Linked DNA regions of Homo sapiens. The protein of the gene in region 1 interacts with the protein of each later gene in a pairwise test. Each region holds a gene or a part of one and is shown in the gene's direction. Other genes may lie near its edges. The genes, in order: MAP3K3 and TOM1L1.

What was found.
Region 2: the proteins of MAP3K3 (region 1) and TOM1L1 interact in a two-hybrid assay, tested with the Homo sapiens proteins (one large-scale study listed by BioGRID and IntAct).

What each region holds. Positions count from the first base shown.
Region 1 is NC_000017.11:63,632,387-63,636,208, forward strand, and holds part of MAP3K3 (mitogen-activated protein kinase kinase kinase 3), read left to right. Parts: intron 1-294; coding exon 295-416; intron 417-2,322; coding exon of another isoform or gene 2,323-2,415; intron 2,416-3,822. UniProt on the Homo sapiens protein: Component of a protein kinase signal transduction cascade. Mediates activation of the NF-kappa-B, AP1 and DDIT3 transcriptional regulators.
Region 2 is NC_000017.11:54,949,121-54,952,942, forward strand, and holds part of TOM1L1 (TOM1-like protein 1), read left to right. Parts: intron 1-397; coding exon 398-503; intron 504-924; coding exon 925-1,006; intron 1,007-2,781; exon of another isoform or gene 2,782-3,822. UniProt on the Homo sapiens protein: Probable adapter protein involved in signaling pathways. Interacts with the SH2 and SH3 domains of various signaling proteins when it is phosphorylated. May promote FYN activation, possibly by disrupting intramolecular SH3-dependent interactions.

The sequences.
Region 1 (3,822 bases):
GAGGCTGATGTGGGAAGGTCACTTGAGCCCCAGAGTTGGAGGCTGCAGTGAGCTATGATCACGCCACTGCACTCCAGCCTGAGTGACAGAGCAAGACCTTGTCTCGAAGAAAAAAAAGAATCCATTAAAATTCAAATTGCCATAGTCTGACCTTTTGGGCTGCATCTGATTATAGTTACAGGGTCTGTCATTTTACCTGGGCAGAACTCCCTGAGTATTAGTTATACAGTTTGTGAAAGAGCTTTGCTGGTCTGTATTTAAGTGTCTTAGTCCATGTGCTCTCTTTCATTGCAGACGAACAGGAGGCATTGAACTCAATCATGAACGATCTGGTGGCCCTCCAGATGAACCGACGTCACCGGATGCCTGGATATGAGACCATGAAGAACAAAGACACAGGTCACTCAAATAGGCAGGTGTGTGTGACCCTGGCAGAGCTAAGTGAGATTTGTTGGGGAGGGGTTTTCAAATGGGAAATATACGAAAAGCCAAGGAGACTACATTACCAGGGTTGAATGCTTTTGACCCCTTCCTTTCACAGTCTGTTAAATGGGAAGTAATACATACCAACCAGGTATGGTTAAATGGTAAGTGATATTGGGAGGCCGAGGCAGGCGGATCACCTGAAGTCAGTAGTTTGAGACCAGCCTGGCCAACATGGTGAAACCCTGTCCCTACTAAAAAACACAAAATTAGCCAGGTGTGGTGGTCCATGCCTGTAGTCCCAGCTACTCAGGAAGCTGAGACAGGAGAATCGCTTGAACCTGGAAGGCAAAGGCTGCAGTGAGCCGAGATAGCACCACTGCACTCCAGCCTGGGCAAGACAGAGTGAAACTCTGTCTCAAAAAAAAAAAAAAAGTTATATATGCCATGCAGTTATGGATCTATGATTTGGAGTCTTAAAGCCTTGTGTAAGCATTTCATCTGTTATGGGGACAGTATTCATATTCGTTTTTCCCCTTTACTGATATTTGGCAAATATTTAATTCAGATTCATGATCCCTAAGTCAGAAGGTTTTTAGCTACCTTACAGTATATAGTCAGGAAAAACTAATTAATTTGGTATTAGCTTATGTAAAATATAATTAAGAAGGTAAATTTATTAATTAAAATGTCACCTAGTATATTCTGAAGGCAATAATGAGTGATTTTGTTATTACTGTTTACAGTTATTTTACCTTATTAACCTTATTGATAGTGCCTGTTTTATTGAGAGTTGTATGCTTCTTTAGGAAAACATTGCCTATTTTCCTTAACATTTAAACTTGTGTGTCATTGACAATCTTCTTCTCACCTGTAGTGCCACTTACCTGTTTCCTGGGTACTTTGTTCTGCAGAGAGGAGTGAATGATGGGGAGCTTTCCTACCTAGTGGGTATCCAGTGCTGTGTCAGCTAGCTATATTGGGCATGTTTGATGAAAATTTGTGTATGACATTCTCCCTTTTGGTTCTGTTTGTTATCAGCTAACCTCCTTTCTTCTCATTTGCACCTTGTTTACCAATTCTTCAGAATTGGTTCCTAGAGATAGTATAAGGCCCTAAAACTTTTCCTGTCTGTGGTCTGCTAGATAGAGCCTTCCAGAGTATTTCCTGCCTTTAGGAATCCTAGGGACCCCAAGGGAAGAGGAGTCCTTTTGTTTCATGTTAAAACAGAAGGATTAGTTTAAAAAGCTGCTTTTGTTGTTGTTACCTTATAGTACTGGAGGTATAAACAGATAAGGGCCCATTCTTACACTATTTTCATATGTTATTCAGTCTGACTGTGTGAGTTCTCCCTTGCTATAACTCATTTGTATTCAAAGCCACTTTTCGAAGGAGCATTTTACCAGAAGTGAGTCCCCTCCCCCTTGCTTGAGCCTAATGACCTCACTTTCCTTCCTGTCTTCCTATGTAGTGTGTGCTTGCTAACATTGCTCCAGTTAGCTGATCTTTCTCCAGACTGGACTATTAGCATGAATATCAGTTAGTGGGTGAAAAGGGGAAGCTTTCTTGAATTGGAAGGCCCAAAAGGACGAGGCTGGGAAAAGGAGGGGCGGAATGGTCACTGATGGTTCCTTGAAGGAGGATTCCTTTTTAGGACTCCTTCTGCTTAGAGCCTAAAAGCCATGATGAGGGAAGTCTTGATCTTTTGCTGTGCCTGCTGCTGCGCTGGTAGAGTGAAGTCAGTGGTTATGAAGGCAGAAGCCTAAAAAGGATTGACTGTTAGGAAGTAATCTTAACAAGAGGTACTAGATCTTTGGATCCATGATTTACTTCAATGTTGTCAAACTTATGTTGCACGAAGGATACAAATTATTAACCTCAGTTTTTTTGTTTTTAAAGAAAAAACACAACAGCAGCAGCTCAGCCCTTCTGAACAGCCCCACAGTAACAACAAGCTCATGTGCAGGGGCCAGTGAGAAAAAGAAATTTTTGGTAAGGATCCAGATTACCTGTTAAAGCCAAAATGTACTTTTAAATCTGCTACTCATGCTGCAACAGCAGAATTCACTTCCCAGACAAGTTGTTTTAGTGGATTTGTAAAAAGCATTGGTTACCCGTGACCTGTGTTCAGTGCTTCTAGTCACCATTTCTCACAACAGTATTATTCATAAACAGCCTCTATCAGTGCTGTCCAATAAACCTTCTGTGATGACAGAAATGTTTTATATCTCTGCTGTCCAATGTGGTTTTGTAGCCACTAGCTACATGTGGCTGTTGAGCAACTAAGGAACTAAATTTTAAATTTTATATCATTTTAATTAATTTAGACAGCCACATGTGGCTAGTGGCTATTGTATTGGACAGCATGACTTTATGCACTATGTAAGGGACTGTTGATTTATTGGGCAAGAAATTATGTATATGCTTGGAGATGTGTAGATATTCATTGGTATGTTCATTCCTTACACACGTCATGAGTTTCTGTACATTGTGATAAGCTAATAATGGGAATCCTACCTAAGATTTCTGTTTTAGGAAGAATGTGAAGATGTGGAACTAGAACAGCTGTTTAGAAATTGAAGCTCAAAGTTTTATGTTAATATGGGCAAAAGGGGAAATAAAATGCTAAGATAGCTTTTCCTCTTAATGAAGTCAAGGTTATAGAATGGCCTGTCCTGGGAAGTGTAGCAGATGTTTTGCTTCTGACCAAGAGGGATATTCTTCAGCAAAATTCTGAAAGCAGAAAAAGACAAAGTCTCAGCAAATGCATTTCTAGGAAAGATAGGGTAAGAGGTAGTGCGGGGAAGATGTTGGGGAGAGGTATTTATAGCCTAGTATAATGAAAGGAGCCTGGTGATATTAATAATCATTTAACATCGGATTTTATAATTCACAGAGTTACACATTTATTATTATTATTGTAGTTTTTGTTAGCCTAGGCCTGAGATAGAATGAAACAGTTTTCTTCATTACCAGTTCTTCTGCCAGAAAGTCCATGCTTAGGAAGAGAGAGGAATGAAAGATCAAAACCTAATTTAAATGGTGAAGAGTTGCCAAATTTGGTTAAGAAATGTCTAATTGGATTACAGATTCAAATTACAGAGTCCCAGTTGAAAGAAGCTAAGCATTTTGGCTAGCTGGAAAGGTTGTTTATTCAAGGGTGGAATGGGGCTGGCAGAGGCAAACAGCCTTTCACTATGAGAATGGCAGTGCTGGCTACAAGGCAGAGTCGAGACTGGCACAGCTTCATGGAGCTCAAGCTTGGCCCAGCAAGGAAAGCCAGAGGAGCTGTGGGTTCATTAACAGGATTGTTTGGGTGCCGAGGCCTGGAAGAACTGAAAAATCTAATTTAATATCTCTGCTTAGCAAGACTTGAGACATCCTTTTCCCTAAGTAAAC
Region 2 (3,822 bases), 8.7 Mb from region 1:
CTTCAAACCCCTAGGCTCGTGATCCTCCTGCCTTGGTCTCTGGGGTAGCTGGGACTACAGGTGTGAGCCACCATGCCCAGCTATTTTTTTTTTTTTTTTGTAGAGTTGGGGTCTTGCTGTTGCCTAGGCTGATCTTGAACTCCTGGGCTCAAGTAATCCTCCCACCTATCCTCCCAAATTGCTGAGATAACAGGCATGAGCCACCATGCCCAGCAGAAAAGTAGTAAATCTCGTAAGTGATTATTACCTAAAAAAACTAAAGTAATAATTAAAAACAACTTATTCTTGTCCAGTTCAAAGTTCTTGGAACAATGTACTTGCAAGTGTAGGAGTCTCAGTAATAAAAGAAAAGCTTAATGTAGAACGTTTATATGAACATGTGTTATGCTTTCTTCAGTTTCTGGAACATTCAAATTCAGTGTTTCTACAGCCAGTTAGTCTACAAACCATTGCAGCAGCACCATCAAACCAGAGTCTGCCACCTTTGCCCAGCAATCATCCAGGTACATGGGACCTTATTATTCGCATCAAATAAGGAAACTTATGAGAATATATGAGTCTGCCAGAGATTCATTGGTAACTGAAAATAGGAGAAATTAGAGATGCTCTTTTGTATTTTTAAGCTAATGAAACAAATTCAGGGCAGATACCATTATGACTGACTTATAAGAGACTGTAAAAATGCTTGTGTTAAACTGAGTATTGTGTTTTGAATGCTAAGGTAAATGAATCTTTAGTTGAGGTTTGGAAACCTTTTTGATACATACAGATTTGTTGAACTTGGGAGTAGCATTGGGACACCAGTCTGTTTTGGTTGTGTTTATTAGGATCTAATATTTGAAGTCTAAATTATAAAAAGAATATCAATTGCGTGTACTCCTCAAAAAGCACAATATGTTTACTGGTCTCTTTTTTTGCCCAAAGCGATGACAAAAAGTGATCTCCAGCCACCTAATTACTACGAGGTAATGGAGTTTGATCCCTTAGCTCCTGCTGTCACTACAGAGTAAGTCATTTACAAAATGATTAATTTATTTTTTGTCTTGGTTCCCTTTGATAGCAGAGCTAACAGGGCTTGGTTATACATTTAACTTTGTTTAGGTCTTGGCAGAAATTGATGGCCTTATTAAAAATGCCTTATGAGGTTTTATGGCAGCTGTTACTCTTAATGGTCTTATCGTTCCGGCCTTGTGACTAAAAAATAAAAATGCTGGGGTTGCATGTTAAGAAATAACTGGAACTAACCTGCTTAATGGACTCCTCATAGATCCCTTGGCAGAAAGTCATGTTCTCTTTAGCTTGAGAAGGGTACTAGTCACTGATTGGTGACATAAGTTTATGCCACATTGATGGAATATTTTAGCTGCTCTTTATGAACTGATCCAAAAAAATCTTATATTAGAACTTGTTTTTAGTCTTCTAAAGCATTAGTACAATTACTTTTTACTTAAAATCCTTAAAGCAACATTCTTTTATGATTTCATATTGGTCAAGATATATAAATATTAATGGAATGGTAAGGTCATAAGAACTTTAATATACTTTGAGTGACTGAAGGTTACCCCCAAATTGTTAAAAATTATTAAAGCACGTTTATTGGAAATCATTGTTCAGAAACTGACAGCCTACAGGCTCTATCTTGCTTGCAGTTGTTTGTTTTTGACCTGTGCAGAATTTAAAATGTGCATTTAAAAAATTAATTGCTGGTTTGGGAAACTCTCAACCATGTTTTTCCTCAGCTCTCACTCTAATATAACAATGAATGCAGAGACTTCTGTGGCCCCCAAATATGTGAGGATTTCTCCCCATCAGCAGGCAAGCAATGAATTCTACAATGGACACCAGCTGGGTGTCCTCTGATTCAATTCCAACACCATCTACCTGGAGATAGTGTCAGACCCCACAGGTTGAGAGCTCAGTCCCCACCACCCCGACACCTACCTTCCCAGACACCAGTCACAAGCCTGGGCCTCTAAACTTAGGACTGACTGGCTTCAAGTTGGGGTTCCCATGACTGCTTCTTTGGGTTTGATTAGTTTGCTGGAGCAGCTCACAGAACTCAGGGAAATACTTATATTTACTGGTTTATTATAAAGGACATTGCAAAGGATGCAGATGAAGAGATGCACAGGGCGAGGCATGCGGAAAAGGCCATGGAGTTTCCGTGCCCTCCCTGGAGTCCCACCCTCCAGGTACCTCCACGTGTTCAGCTATCCAGAAACTGACCTGACCCAACCCCAACCCAGTCCTCTAGGGTTTTTAATGGAAGCTTCTTGATGTCAGCATTCCTTCCCCCAGGGTATAGGGCAGGACCCTCTCTAGGGAGGCTCTTATGACCCACAGTGACAAAGGTGGGCGATTAGAGTGGTGCCTTGGGGCAGGTGAAAGGAGGACTAGAGAAGGTCGAGAGATTCTGCTTCCAGAGGCTGGCTCCTAAGGCCTGACACACCCAACATTATAACAAAAGACTGTAACAAGGGCTATGGGAGTTGTGAGCCAGGAACCTTAGACAAAAACCAGTATGTATCATAAGACCACAGTTGCCAACAGCTGAAAACTCGGATATTTGAAAATAAAAATTCTGGACTTCTAGATCATTTAGATACTCTGTCAACACGAAGCCTGAATTTTTACGTGCTAGCTATGGGCTGGGGTTGAGTAGTAGCTATCTCCTTTACACAGGTAGGCTCTGCAGCCCCTCAGGTCCTGTTACCACCCAAAAAACCCAGGGTTCATTCACCTGGATAGTAACAGATATCTGACTCTCCACAAGGACACAGGTTTTGATCAATAGGAATTTTATTACTTAGCACAAGTAAATTCTTTAGGGGCCAGGATCAGAAAGCGTTCTTCTGTAACTTCTTCATGTTGACCAGGGACACTGTATCCAGAGATGTTAGAGGAGTGAAAATCTCTAGGCACTAAAACTAAATATGTTTTAGGGTCTCCCAGGATAGGTTGCAAAGGCACCTACAGTTGAAATTTTTCTAATCTGGAAGATACAAATTTTACGAAGAGGTTAAAGATGCAGGGACCAAACAACAGTAGTAAGAGCAATAAAATTAGTGGCCTCATTAGGGGAAGAAACCAAGTAACACTTGGTATTGCTAATTTGAGAACTTCTCAAACAGAATTAGAAGTATGGCTATTAGGCCTGATGTGGTGGCTCACCCCTGTAATCCCAGCACTTTGCGAGGCCAAGGCGCGCAGATCACCCTGAATTCAAGATCAGCCTGGGCAACATGGTGAAACCCCGTCTCTACTAAAAATACAAAAATTAGGCAGGTGTGGTGGTGCGCACCTGTAGTCCCAGCTACTCAGGAAGGTGAGGCAGAAAAATCGCTAGAACCCAGGAGGTAGAGGTTGCAGTGAGCCCAGATCGTGCCCCACTGCATTCCAACCTGGGCAACAGAGCGAGACTGTCTCAAAAAAAAAAAAAAAAAAAAAATATGGCTGCTGATTAAAAGTGTGGAACCAAGAGGCTTGGGCATGGACCTTCCTAATGTTAACTTCCTATTTCCCCTGAGGTATTTATTCAGGTACAGCAAGAGGAATTAATAACTGCACACTCTCCTCCTCCCTGTTCTGCTAAGAGGCAGTCTAATGCTATACAATTATCTAGTACCGCATTAGCCAAGGAGTCATATGAGGCCCCAAGTCTGGAACTTCCCCAGGAACTAGGGCCAGCATGGCAGTGCCATGGGCTCAGAACACCTCTATTCTGTCCTGATTTAGAGAAATTGTGGCTCCAAACTTAGTCAGAAGGTCCCTTCCCAAAAGGAGAATGGGATGTTTGGGGAACAGAAGAAAGAATGAGTGAAA